2 linked regions of the Homo sapiens genome follow. The protein of the gene in region 1 purifies or fractionates together with the protein of each later gene. This does not show direct contact. Each region holds a gene or a part of one and is shown in the gene's direction. Other genes may lie near its edges.

Evidence for each region. The genes of interacting proteins can lie anywhere in the genome.
Region 2: the proteins of KLHL2 (region 1) and USP28 purify together in Homo sapiens (affinity purification with mass spectrometry; 3 studies listed by BioGRID and IntAct, with this or other methods). This does not show direct contact.

Annotation. Positions count from the first base shown.
Region 1 is NC_000004.12:165,202,847-165,210,570, forward strand, and holds the start of KLHL2 (kelch-like protein 2), read left to right. Parts: upstream 1-4,714; 5' UTR 4,715-4,975; coding exon of another isoform or gene 4,976-5,030; coding exon 5,031-5,056; intron 5,057-7,172; exon of another isoform or gene 7,173-7,296; coding exon of another isoform or gene 7,297-7,334; intron 7,335-7,724. UniProt on the Homo sapiens protein: Substrate-specific adapter of a BCR (BTB-CUL3-RBX1) E3 ubiquitin ligase complex that mediates the ubiquitination of target proteins, such as NPTXR, WNK1, WNK3 and WNK4, leading most often to their proteasomal degradation.
Region 2 is NC_000011.10:113,809,562-113,816,585, reverse strand, and holds part of USP28 (ubiquitin carboxyl-terminal hydrolase 28), read left to right. Parts: intron 1-1,203; coding exon 1,204-1,412; intron 1,413-2,630; coding exon 2,631-2,701; coding exon of another isoform or gene 2,702-2,710; exon of another isoform or gene 2,711-2,831; intron 2,832-4,081; coding exon 4,082-4,310; intron 4,311-7,024. UniProt on the Homo sapiens protein: Deubiquitinase involved in DNA damage response checkpoint and MYC proto-oncogene stability. Involved in DNA damage induced apoptosis by specifically deubiquitinating proteins of the DNA damage pathway such as CLSPN.

The DNA of each region.
Region 1 (7,724 bases):
TCCCCCCAGCACTGCTGACTGTGTAGAAAGATGTTCAGTCCTAGATAATTCTATGAGGGATTACATCACCAGACTACATAAATAGATACCATAAAGCTATATATAAGTAAAAATAGATTAAGTAAATTTCCTTTTCTTAAAACACAGAGAAATTGCTTACCTGATATACATTAGTGTGAAACCTATTTTTGGATACTTCCTGTACCAATTCCAACAGATTTTCAATTAAATTTTGCAGCAAACAATTTGCATTCATTTCTCCAGGAAGCTCAGATACGGGGTAATGGGGAGGTATGCTGTGTCGGAAGTAAAGTTGCTATCTTACAGACTACAAAAACAAGGAGGCAAGCATTTGAAGAGTAAATTGGATTCATGGAAACAATGGACTCCATCACTTAAGGATTGTCTATTGATCTGGAGCACAAGACGCACGTCACCCCATTTGACACCATAAAGCTTGTAATACATATCTTAATGTATTGACAAATCCATTTGCTAAACCGCAAAGTATCAAAAGAACATTTTGAAATGCTTCTTAATATATTATGCTGCTAAGTTTCTCCTAAGTCAAAATATTAAAAGCAAAATCCCTAATTTAAAATTAGTAAAGCAACTTAAACTAAGTCTTTAGGATAGAAAATGCGACTTTTTAGAAGGCCTTTATCTTCTTTAGTACCTAATTTTGAATGAGTGAATCTTTTCATACTTGCCATCTTTGCACTGGAAGGAATTACAAATATAGCATCTAATGGTTTTGTATTCTTCAGCGAAGTTAAGTCTTTTCTTTATAGGAGCAATTCTTAGCTCCCGGATACTTGCCATGAGATGTGTTTGTGCCTGCCATGTCATGTCATTAGTTCTATTGCAACATCTGATTTCAGCTCAATCTAAGGGATTTTTGCCACTAGCCACTGTCACGGACTTGTTCATCTGAGTGGTTCCATTTTCTTTACAAGTGATACATTCCATTTACTTACATTAGCTTTAGATTATGGTTACTAACATGCTTAAGGAATTGTTCTATCTTAACAGCATAGGAGGCAGATGGACTTTTGTAAGATCTCATTCCTCTGCCAAGGGTGTGAAGGGCTCAGCTAAAGAATGATGAAAACGTGGGTGGAGGTAATAACCTACGCAAGGGGAGGTCAACACCGTTGCATGTTCAGTCAGACCTTATGTCAAGGGAAATGAAAAAGAGAAGAGCTTGGTGGTCTTAGGTAGCCGCTCCTAATCCTTAGTGTCCTTCACTTGAGAAGATAGTGAAACTGAGAGTCAAAGGAAGAAGTGTTAAAAAGTTTCTTCCCCACTGTAATGTTGGATTTGGGCTCAGCCTGTCAAGCATTTTTGTTTACTTTCTCTTGTGAGCAGAGAGACAGGTTAAGGGTGGAGGCTGTATCTGGCTGAGGACCAGTTTTGGTGTGACATTTAACTCCAAGTAAGGCTGAATTGTATGTGGGTAATGTACTCTTTCCCAGTATACTTGTGAAGCCTACAAATGGGGGTGGTTGTGAAAAAAGAAAGGTTTGGGTTGACATTTAGCATGCTAGATGAGTCGAACCCCTTAAGCAAAGAATTATGATAGACAAAACTAACCCAGAGGAGGATGTGAGAGGGGCTATGGTTTGAAGTTATGTGCCTAGCTGTCAGACGGACACATCGTAATTTTTTAGTATTTATTTGTACACATAACACTATTTTGGGTGGGAAGATACAAAAGCAATAGAAAAAGTCCACCTCCCACCCCCCGCCTCAAAAGAGTTCCTGAAATGGCTGATGAGTCAGCCCTACTCACTGAGTTTGCATGCAGAAGGAAGTCAGGCCAAAGGTTTGGTAAAACCTAAGTCAGTATCTCCTGGCTCTAGGACTTAACCCAGTTCCTAGCAGAGTAAGGTATAACTGATGGCCACAGAAGTGTACAGAAATAATAGCAGCAACTAACATTTATTAAGTGCTTCCATTATACATTTATGTGCTATATACTTTACATCAATTATTTCACTTAATTCTTAAAACAACCTTGTAAAGTAGGAAGTTTTATTATGGCTCTGAACAGAACCATCATACAGAGAAGTTAGCTCATGCTGAAGTGTACTAAGGGTTTTTTGTTTGTTTGTTTGTTTGTTTTCTGGAACCCTTCACTAGGCTGCCAAGACACCTGCCTTGGATCTCCTTCTACTTCCCTGGTTGTTCCTTTACCATCGCCTTTGCTGAGTCCTCCTCCTCTTCTTTTTTAATGTTGGAGTGCCCCAGGGCTTACTTCTTGGTCTACTTCTTTTCTCTAGCTACATAATCTAGTTGATCTCAATACCCATCTGTATACTAACAACTTCCAAATTTATATCTACCCCAGATACATATATCTAATTGTCTACACCTATCTTCACATGGATGTTTAACAGACATCTCAAACTTACCATATCTAAATCAGAGTTTACAAATACAATCTCCACCCCGCCCTCCAATATTTGTTCTTTCTCAATATCCCCAATCCCAGTAAAGGGCAACTCAATTCTCCCCAGAGATCAGAACAAAACCCTTAGGATCATCTTTCTTTTATATGCTAATCTGTCAGCAGTTCCTGAGTACTTTACCTTCTAAACAGATTCAGAACCTGTTCACTTTTCTCAGTCACTCGGACTCTAATCCAAGCCATCCTTACCTTTCATCCCAGCTAGGCTAATCTCTTTGCTTGCTCTCTTGCCTCGCTATGCATGTTGCCCATACAGCAATCAGTCATCTTTTTTTTTAAAAAAAACTTTGTATTATGAACTTTTATTTATTTATGAATTTTGAGACGGAGTCTCGCTCTGTTGCCTGGGCTGGAGTGCAGTGGCCCGATCTCGGCTCACTGCAACCTCCGCCTCCTGGGTTCGAGTGATTCTCCTGCCTCAGCCTCCTCAGTAGCTGGGATTACAGGCACCCACCACCACACCCGGCTATTTTTAGAAGAGACGGGATTTCGCCATGTTGGACAGGCTGGTCTTGAACTCCTGACCTCAGATGATCCGCCCGCCTCGGCCTCCCAAAAAGTGCTGGGATTACAGGCGTGAGCCACCGCGCCCGGCCCATTATTATCTTTTAAAACATACACATAAACACACATAAATGATGACCACCCCTATGCACCCAACACTTAGCCTCAAAAATTAACATTTTGCAAATATTCATCTATTCACTTCTCTGTCCTTTTTTTTTTTTTTTTTGAGACGGAGTTTGTTTCGCTCTTGTTGACCGGGCTGGAGTGCAATGGCACGATCTCGGCTCATCGCAACCTCTGCCTCCCTAGTTCAAGCGATTCTCCTGCCTCAGCCTCCCGAGTAGCTGGAATTACAGGCATGCACCACCATGCCCGGCTAATTTTTTGTATTTTTAGTAGAGACGGGGTTTCTCCATGTTGGTCAGGCGGATCTCGAACTCCCGACCTCAGGTGATCGGCCCGCCTCGGCCTCCCAAAGTGCTGGGATTACAGGCGTGAGCCACGGCGCCCGACCTCTGTCCTTCTTTTTGTGGGATATTTTCAAACAAATCCCAGAAAAGTCATCCTTTTAATGATCAGATCAAGCTACTCACCACTTTCTAATTGCTTCTAATCTCAGTAAAAGCCAAGTCCTTTATCACGGCCTGCAAGGCCTGGGTGATCTGTGATTACTCCTCGCCACACCCATTCCTGCCGCCGTCCTCCTGACCTCACTCTGCTTCATTAGAGGGTCTCCCACCCTCGCGGCCCCAGCAAGCATCATCTGGAAAGCTTGTTAAAGCACACGCTGCTGGGCCCCACCCCCAGAGTTTCTGGTTCAGTAGGGCTAAAGTGGGACTGGAAAATTCGCATCTCTAACAAGTTCGCAGGTGCTACTGCTTCCAGCGGGCATACTTGGAGAACCACCAGCTGCACTGTTCTCCTTCCCGTTCCTCAACAAGGCAGGCAGGATCTTGCTTAGCAGTCTCCACGCTGCTCTTCCCTCTGCCCTAGGCATTCTTTGCATTACTCAAAGCCCCTGTTATTCCATCTCTTTAACTCATGCCTTTTGAGAGGCCTTCTCTGACCACTCTTTCTAAAATCTCTTTCCCTCTCCTCATCCTCATTTATGTTTCTTCATGGTAAGCATCACTTACTGTTTCCGTCACCCCGTCTAGATGGACAGCTCCACAAGCAGAAAGACTTGGTTTTGCTGTCACAGCCGCAGCACTAAAACCTTGCTTAGCAGGTGCTCACTTCACTTGTCCAAGGAATGGCTAGCATACTGAGGAGGGAGAGCCTGCTTCCTGCCTGGGACACTGGACAGGCAAATCACTTCTTCTTGCCTCAGTGCCACCCTTTGTAAGGACACTGGTTGGTTATGCCTACCCTTCCCATCTCCCTGGGTACAGGCACAAATGAAAAGAATAACGTGTACACGCCCGCGAAGCAGAGCAGCAAGTGGATACCGAGCATTATTACGCCGTGCGTTCGGCCGCCCTTTTTCTGCACGGAGAACCCCCTCCGCTCCCATTTTCCAGCGCCCCCGTCCCGGCGATCCAGAGACCCGCTGTGGGCGGCCGCCGCCCGCGTCCCGGCCTGCGGGCCAGCGTCTGGGCACGCCCGCCCCGCACCCGGCTGGCGCCCGCCCGCCCGCCTCCAGAAGCAGAAGCGGCAGCGGCAGCGGCAGCAGCAGCAGCAGGAGGAAGGGGAGGCGCCGAGGGAGGGGTACTCGGCCGCCGCGGGAGGCCGCATCGCAGTCCCGTCACAGCGTCGGCGCCGGCCGGGGCCGAACCCGGAAGTGGCCGAGCCCGCGCGCCCGCCGGTCCCGTCGCCGCCGCCCCGCACTCGGGCGAGCGCGGGAGCCGCGCAGTAGACGGAGCGCGCCCGGCCGAGCGGGCCATGGCCGCGGGGGCCGCCGCCGCAGGTGGTGGCGCGCGGTGAGGAGAGCGCGGCGCCCCCTCCGGGGCGGATGGAACGCGGCTCGGCGGGCGGGCAGTGCCGGCGTCCGCGGCTGGAATGGTGCTGGCTGTGTTGGTCGGTGCCTGCGTTCTGAAGCCCGAGAGGAGCCACAATGGAGACGCCGCCGCTGCCTCCCGCGTGAGTGAGCGGGCGGGCGGGCTGCGCCGCTGCGGATAAGCGCGCCGCTGCGGCGCGTGTCGCCGGCCGCGGGCGCAGCTCTGGGGACAGCCGCCGGGGCCGGCGGGAGGTGGGAGATGCGGGGCGTGACGAGGCGCTGTGCCCGCAGTCCTGAGCGGACGCGGACGGAAACTCAGCCTGGCCAGGCGGTGACTTAAAACGCTGCCCAGGATTTCTGGGGAAGGGTCTTCCCCATCTCGGGCGGATAGAAGATTCGGGGTGGGGCTGTGCATGGGTGACCCTGCAGGTCCTGTGTGTACCTCCCTGAAATGCATGGGCACCTGGTGCCGAGTTTGCCTACCCCTTTATAAGAGATCAGGCTAGGATGCACTGAGTCCGTTGAAAAAAGGAAACTGGAAAGTACCAGTCACCCGCTGTCTAAATGAATTGATCTTAGGTTGCTTGATTCCCCGAATTTCTAACAAAATTAATATCTGAGGAGCTTTTGCATCACTCTAAATGAGCGGCGGCCGTTCAGGGCATGTGACCTCTTTTACCTGGCACTGCAGAACGTTTTATCCAGAAATCAGCATCTTCTGTTTCGTTCGTACCTCGGGCAAATTAGTAGCGTATCGACCTGCCAGGCACAGGTGTCTTTTTTCTTTGGTACCCAAGTACATTCAAGATCACTGGCAACAGAATTACTTTCTAGAAATAATAGCTGAAACATTATGTAGAAGACATTATTGCATTATTCAGAACAAGGGTTTTTTTTTTAAATTTTAGTTTTTAGTTTTAAAAACATCTTGGTAAAAGTGAACTGTAAATACCCAGGAGTTTCGAAAATTTCAATTTTGGTTCCCTCTTCTCTTAGGAAGGAACAAGAGTCCTTTGAATCTGACTTTTCAAATCGCAGACAAACCTCATCCTGAAGAATGGTTTACCTTTTCATGAGAGCTTATTCATGGAGGCTTGTCGTTCTCCGGTCAAATTTGGCAAGCTTCACTCCATGCCGATTGTACCGCACCAGTCTCTTGTGGTTATTTGGCAGAATTCCAGCCAAAATAAGGATACTTGGCTTGGGTTGAATAATTTTTTGATGTTCAGCCCTTTTAGGAGAGCTAATGGGATTCTGGAACGACAGTTTCTAAAAGTGCGTTTCAGAATTTTTAGCTTGAGTGGAACAGGTCGTGGAAATCTAGGGGGTAGATAAGACTCTTGAATTGGCCTTCCTGGGCTGACAGAAGCAGGGGCTTAGTCACCTCTCGATAGCTGTGGCTTTGAGGGCTCTGAGATTTGGTCATGTTCTTCAGCAGGCTGGAGGAAGGCACCTGAACCCCTAGGAAATATGATGGTGGATGGTTCACATCAGCAGCATGAGCACACGGGGGTCTGCCCAGGCTCAGAAGCACTTAAAGCAGGATATGCTAGCTGTATTTAGCCAACATATGGTATATAATATGTAACATGTAGGTATGCTATCTGTAGTAAACCTGCCTTCTACATAAGTTCCTGCAGTTCGTTTTTACTTTTGGAACAGAGGGAGCTAAAGGAAAGAACAAGGGAATACTTAGAATGCAGGTGAAAAGAAGGGTGTGGGAAAGCAGCCTCTGGAGGGAGGGAGGGAATAGAGACACAGATGATTTAAATTGAAATAATAAAAAATAGAATTGATGTATGCATTGAAACATTGATAAACTGACTCTAGGGTAGATCAGCTAATCATAATTTTGATGACCAGCGCCATTTTTGGCATTGAGATTCCATCAATAGTGCTGGAACAATGAGAGGCTGAGATATAATGGAAAACTTGGAATGCCAGCATGGATGAAAGAATTGTTAAAACTCCTTTCAATCAGGGGTGGCTAAAGTTGGTGAGACTTTTTCATTGTTTCTGTCTATTTAATTATAAATACAAGTAGGTTTTTATTTTCATTTGGTTCTGTCCAGGATTAAACCTAATTCAAGAACTCGTTATGGTGTTATTTGCCATTCTGTGGATCAGAAATAGTTTTTTTCCTTGCCACCCCTTGGCCTGTTTGCCTCCACTCCCATTAACATCCCTCCACCATGGATCCCGTGTGCCGGATTTGAGACTTGCAGGCAGTGTCTTTAGGAAGGAACTTTACCGGGCCTCACTGCCAGAGCTGGGCTAGAACAGAGGCCAGTGGAAACTATTAGGAAGACTCAGCTTTTCATGAAGTTAGATTTTTAGCCTGAGCTTTAAGTCAAAGAAAGATGACCTGGACTTAAAGTGCCTTATGGTATGGTTGGAAGCACGGCCCCAGATTCTCTTTGTGTAAGTGTCTGTTTATTAATTCATTCAATGTGCAAATATTTGAATGCCTGTCTCTGCCTGGCACTGTGCGTGGTGCTTTTGCTTGTGTTCTCTTTTAACATCCAAATTTACATTGTTCTCAGATCCCACCTTGTTCTCCACTGGCCTGTTGGCACATTGTCTTGGAGGGAGGTCAGGCATCTGTACCCACCATTCCTGGTTCCTTCAGGATGGACTCCTTGAAATTAGCTTTTGATCTTTTGTGCTTTTTCTATTCCTTGCCTCCAACTTTCATCCTTTTTAATTCTCATATAATTAAAAATTGTCGTTGGACTATATATTTGTGCTTATTGTTTTTTGCATACTTGAGTATATGTGGCATTTAGATTCTGTTGCATTCTGGGTCTGGGT
Region 2 (7,024 bases), on another chromosome or scaffold:
CATTATTTTGTGCATGTGAGAGAGTGAGGAGGAGGGAGTGAGGTTTTTTTGTTTGTTTGTTTGTTTGTTTTTTTGAGATGGAGTCTCACTCTGTCGCCAGGCTGGAGTACAGTGGCATGATCTCAGCTCACTGCAACCTCCGCCTTCTGGGTTCAAGCGATTCTCCTGCCTCAGCCTCCCAAGTAGCTGGGACTACAGGCGTGCCACCATGCCCAGCTGAGTTTTGTATTTTTAGTAGAGATGGGGTTTCACCATGTTGGCCAGGGTGGTCTCGATCTCTTGACCTGGTAATTTGCCCTCCTTAGCCTCCCAAAGTGCTGGGATTACAGGCGTGAGCCACCGTACCCGGCAGGAGTGAGAGTTTTTTTTTAAGTCAAAGTAAAGGAAGTTTATATTCTTCAGCTTTGGTGTAAAAGAGAAACCTAACTACAATTAGAAGCTTATTTTATATTCCTGCTGGTTTGTTGACCTGCAGTTTTACTCTGACAATAGAGAAATTAACATTTACTTGATATGCTTTATTCTCTGTTAGTTTACAGAAAAGACGTAAAGAACTTAAGATTTATATTTTGTAGATGAGATATTAATACTTTTTTCCTTGGGTATTTAGCTAAAGTAGTAGAGCTAGGATTGTTTGACTTGAAGCCCTTCTCTCAGAACTCTCCAAGGTGTCACCTAGTGTGTATTCCTGTGAGTTGTATGTTCAGCTGATGCTTCCTTTTTCTTCCTTCTGTGTATTTTGTTCCAGGAAGGATAGTGTCACTTTAGTTGGCTTCATCTTGTAAACTCTGTAGTTGATTCCTTGATTCTTCCAGGCCTAGTCTTCTCTTTTCCATTTTCCTTCTCTTCCCATCCTCATGGGAAGGAATAATCAGTGATCAGAGAACATGAGCTAAAGACTGGCCGATCTGGCTTTGGATTCATTTTCATTACCTTCCAGCTTGGTGAACTTGGGCATGTTGCTTAATTTATTTAAACCTTAGGCTCACAGTTGGTAAAATAGGGATAGAAAAGTATCTACCTCACAGGCCAGTTGTGGTACGTGAGATGATAGAGAAAAAGGTTGGCTCTGTACCTTTATAGAGTTAATGCTCACTGAATACCTGTACTTTTTCATATAGCATCTTGCTTTCCAAAGTACATAATTTAGGCCAAGGTATCTTTTGGAAATTATCATATGAGCATGATTTTTGTCTTCCTCAGTACAAGTACAGAAAGCTCTTCTCAGGATGTTGAAAGTACCTTTTCTTCTCCTGAAGATTCTTTACCCAAGTCTAAACCACTGACATCTTCTCGGTCTTCCATGGAAATGCCTTCACAGCCAGCTCCACGAACAGTCACAGATGAGGAGATAAATTTTGTTAAGACCTGTCTTCAGAGATGGAGGAGTGAGATTGAACAAGATATACAAGGTTGGCTCTTTTAAAATTTGTCAGTTACTCTTTGCTTTTTCTGTTTTTTGACTATTTGGAGGTTAAGCACCTCGGTACACTTCCTGACATTACTGTACATGCTACAGAATTTCCCCCCCGCCGAGATGGAGTCTCACTCTATCACCCAGGCTGGAGTGCAGTGGTGCAATCTCAGCTCACTGAAACCTCCGCCTTCCGGGTTCAGGCGATTTTCATGGCTCAGCCTCCCAAGTAGCTGGGATTATAGGCATGTACCACCACACCTGGCTGATTTTTTTTTTTTTTTTAGTAGAGATGGGGTTTCACCATGTTGGTCAGGCTGGTCTTAAACTCCTGACCAAAACTGATCTGCCTGCCTTGGCCTCCCAAAGTGCTGGGATTATAGGTGTGAGCCACTACGTCTGGCCCATGCTTTTGAATTTTGACATGGTAATTGTGACTTCTTTTGCACTTTTAGTGCCCTGTAAACTTGGCTCACACACCCCCATTATACAGATATGGAAAGATCTCCCCCTCAAAATTTCTGGGAAATGATCACCTTTGCTGAGATTTTTCTGCATCAACTGATTTCTGTTTCTGTGGTAGATTATCTGAACTCCAGCTTAAGTTGACCCAGATTTAGCATTTAGCTTTTCTGGACTTCTACTCTTCAGTCTTTTCTATAGGAAGCATGCTTTACTGAAGGTTAATGAGGTATTTGAGCAGTATGCACAATGTAAAATTGGATTATTCAGCATTGTATTCTTAAAAAGCCCTTTGACCTCATTGCCCATATTGCTCAGACTAACCTTACCCCCCTTCCTGTCTCCTTTTGTCTAGGGAACAAAAAGATGATGGAAAATACAGATTCTTCCCAGATTCCTATTCAGAGAAATTTAGCCTTACCCTTTGTTCTGCTTTCTCATTTCAGATCCTGTCTGAGGCATACATTTTACAGCCAAGTGACCCATTAAGATCTTTTCCTAAACAGCTTACTCTTTAAGAAATTTTGGCAATTATAAAAAATAATGTTTTAAAACCTTAATGTAATTATATTGAACTAAAAGCTTTCATAACCTAAAGTACTAGCTGCTTTAAAACTGTATATTGCTTCGTGGTTCATAGAGGGAAGCTGAAATCATTAGGACCCTAGCAATATTCTTTGCTTAGTTAAAGTAGCCTGTGTGACATAGAATGAGATCATTTTAGTGAAGCTTTTGTTTTTCTTTTTCCAAACAGATTTAAAGACTTGTATTGCAAGTACTACTCAGACTATTGAACAGATGTACTGCGATCCTCTCCTTCGTCAGGTAGAATGAAAATTGATGGGAAAGTAGTCAAGGCATGTGCTAATGGTAGATACAAAAATCAAATTTGATAGTTTTCTTTTAAACCCAATGGGAATCCCCCTAAGATAAAAGAATAAACTTAAGATATAAATTGATGTTGTTCTGTTTCTTTATTTTAGGCTAAAGAAAGCAATATACCTTTTACCAAAAACAGGACCTAACACATACTTGTTTGAATTCTGCCACATGGAATTTTTTCATATTGTAGAAAGGTTTGCTGTCAGATACTAATAAAAATTACTTACAAAATGGTACTTTAAGTAGTGCAGTGGGAAAAACTGAACTAGAGAACAGTTATCCTTTCTTTCCCAAAGTTCCATGATTCTTCAAGATCTTTAATTTAACAACATGCGTTCAAGCTTTATTTCTGTAATAATAAATTCCAAAAGAGAGTTAGGACAGAAATTCTTAACTATCCACAGAAGTGTTTGTTAGAATAAATTCTGGGAATGGAGGGGTAAAGAGCCTCCAGGAGTGTCTCTGAACCTATTCTGGTTAGGGGCATGGACTTTCAGTGGCTTCTGTATGAATGACTGGAATGGGCAGAATGGCTTGGAGGAGGGGAGCCCTGTTTCTAGAATGGCATTGAGGCACAGTCCCATTGCTTAACAGGAATGCACCATGTAAAACGCAGGCTTCCCCATTTTTTCTTTTGTGTTAATTCAAAAATCTTCACCAGTAATTAAAATAGGTCAAAGTAAGTGTAAATTTAATTTGATTCTGTGACTGACTTTCATCTCTTTTACTAGTATTTAGTTAGCATTTAAGCATTGCTCTATTTTCTCTATATTGAAAATACACAAATGTGCTTTTCAAATGTTGTAACAAACAAGTATGTCATTAAAAGGGTCTTCACTCCAGATAGATAAGTGGTCACTTAACTCTAAGAAGCATGTGGCTGAATTAAATATGTTAACTTAAATTTTGTTGCCAAATAAAATAGGCATGGAACAAAATAGCTGCTAACCTTTGTAGGTCCCAAATATGCTAAGCATTTTCAGCATGAGTGGTCAAGGTGATTCTATTTTTAGATAAACAGAGTTTTGAATTAGAAGGATGCATATGTTTAGGTTATGTTTGGTTTTAGATCTGAGGAGTTTAGAGTTGAAAGAGTCTTCAGAGAGGTCATGTAGTTCAGCGATCTGGTTTTCAAGGTTTTGGAACTGAGACATAATTGATCAATTCCAAGGCTGTGTTTTTGTGGACTTCATCTTGAATCAACAAGATGTTTTAATATGAACCCCACATTAATCACATCATAAACAGTAATTTCTTAATAACCTAAACTTTATCAGATTACTTTGCTTCACCTGACTGGGGAATGTACATTCTGACTTACAGGTGCCTTATCGCTTGCATGCAGTTCTTGTTCATGAAGGACAAGCAAATGCTGGACACTATTGGGCCTATATCTATAATCAACCCCGACAGAGCTGGCTCAAGTACAATGACATCTCTGTTACTGAATCTTCCTGGGAAGAAGTTGAAAGAGATTCCTATGGAGGCCTGAGAAATGTTAGTGCTTACTGTCTGATGTACATTAATGACAAACTACCCTACTTCAATGCAGGTAAAAGTATCTTGGCAGAATCTATAGATTGGGGAAAATCTGTACTGCTCAGGGAGAAGAACAGTCTTGTACTGCTTTTTAAAAAATTTACAACTTACTATTATATAATAATAGATTTAAAAAATATAGACAGTATAAAAGGAAATGAAAAGGAAAAACAAGTTTGCTTTACTACTTTCTTCCTTGACCATGGGTCCCACTCCCAACAAGTACACAATGTTAGGTTTCTTATGTAGTCTTCAAGACACATTGTATACATATGCTAGATTCTATTTATCTGTATCTTCCCCTCCCCCTTTTCCCCAAGTAGATTATTTTTCCATTCAACTCTGAACCTTTTTCATTAATCGAGTATTTAGCAATCTCTATATTTTTAGTAAAAGAATCTTAACTGTTTAACAACTATATAGTAATTCATTGTGTGGAATATACGTATTTTTAAAATTTACTCGTAGATAGACTAATTCTCTAGTTGTTGTTGTTTTTAGTGACATCTTTTTTTTTTCTTGCCCCATCTTATGGTGCTGATAGTACATATATTTTTGCACCCTTTGGAGAATAACTAAATTTTTTCTTTCTTTTTTTTTTGAGACATAGTCTTGCTTTGTCGCCCAGGCTGGAGTGCAGTGGCGCAATCTCAGCTCACTGCAACCTCCGCCTGCCAGGTTGAAGTGATTCTCCTGCCTCACTCTCGCAAGCAGCTGGAATTACAGGTGCCCACCACCATGCCCAGCTGATTTTTGTATTTTTAGTAGAAACGGTGTTTCACCATCTTGGCCAGGGTGTTTTTGAACTCCTCACCTCAGGTGATCTGCCTGCTTCGGCCTCTCAAAGTGCTGGGATTACAGTTGTGGGGCCCAGAATAACTAAATTTTACAGGTGTATTTGCCTGAATAGTTTCACAGTTGTTGTAATACTACTACTCATACAGAGAGCAATAATAATTATCATTTATATTGGTACTTTACTTCTTAAAGCATGCTTTCAAACTTTTATTTCTCTAAGAACTTACAGCTGTGAAAAGGAGGGAAAGAGTTTGAAAATGTTGTCATCTTCATTTTCCAGCTGGATAACAGATTCCAAAGGGTTCTAAAGTTGAGTAATCACATAGTCAATAAATGGCAGTCCCAAGATTCAAATACAATTCTCCAAATTCTGTGGTGTTTTCAATTTACATTATTCTCTCTTTCTTTCACATCCTCTATGAGAGGTCTTATGATGAACATTTTATAAGTAAGATAGTAGAAAGCTTTTGCCTGTAGTATTCAAACTTTACTGTGTGGCGTAAGTAAGGAAACATCGCCCCGGCATGGTGGTTCACGCCTGTAATCCCAGCACTTTGGGAGGCCAAGGCGGGCGGATCACTTGAGGCCAGGAGTTGAAGACCAACCTGGCCAACATGGTAAAACCCTGTGTCTACTAAAAATACATAAATTAGCTGGGCATGGTGGCACACACCTGTAATCCCACCTACTTGGGAGGCTGAGGCAGGAGAATTGCTTGAACCTGGGAGGCAAAGGTTGCAGTGAGCTGAGATCGTGCCACTGCACCCAGCCTGGGCAACAGAGTGAGACTTTGTCTCAAAAAAAACAAACATGTAAGGTGTTCTGTCCAGGCAGCACGTTATCTTTCTGATTTGCTAGTGTGGTTGGGGATTAGGGAATGGAGAGAATGATAAATGAACAGTAAGTAATCTTCACAATTGTATATTTATGCTGCGAAGGAATGAATAGCTGCTTGAATGTACTAGCTGTTGTTAATATATAGGAGCCTTGTTATTGCATGCATGGTTTATTTTTCTATTATAGAAACAAACAAGTGGAAACTGTCATTTGCTTAGTGAAAAGGCTGATTAATGGCAACCAGTAAGTGAATGTGTTAATCTGCTATAGACTTTTTTTGTTTGTTTTGGTCACAGGGTTAGAAAATGAAATTTTATATGTCATTGATATCCTTGCCATTAAAGCCAGGTATTATTGACCATTTCACCATTGTATCAAATTGCTTTCTCATAGTACTGAATTGTATGAAAGTTGGTGGTATAAATGTCTTGAAATTCATCTCTAACCTTTTTGAAATGGACATTCTTATCCGCCAAATGCAGTGGTTAAATGGATAAAACTGTTTATCTTGAAATTTTTATTGGCTCTAATGATTTTCTGAATTTCCCTGAAATGATTGGTATATCCAGTGATTGACAGTGACCAGTTTCCAAATCTTTTTTTTTTTTTTTTTTTTTTTGAGATGGAGTCTCACTCTGTCTCCCAGGCTGGAGCGCAGTGGCGCAACCTCAGCTTACTGCAACCTCCTCCTCCCAGGTTCAAGCGATTCTCCCACTTCAGCCTTCTAAGTAGCTGGGATTACAGGCATGCGCCACCACGCTTGACTAATTTTTGTATTTTTTTTAGTAGAGACAGGGTTTCACCATGTTGGCCAGGCTGGTCTTGAACTCCTACCTCAAGTGATTGGCCTGCCTTGGCCTCCCAAAGTGCTGGGATTACAGGCGTGAGCCACTGCACCCGGCCCACTTTCCATATCTTTAACTCTGTGTTATTCATTCACTTAGCAGATGTTTAATGAGTGCCTACTAAATGTCAGGCACTGTTATCAATTGTTGCCCTTACATTGTCCATACAGGTTGAGCATCCCACATGTGAATATCCAAAATCCCAAATGCTCCAAAATCCACAAAACTTTATGAGCCTTTTTCATTA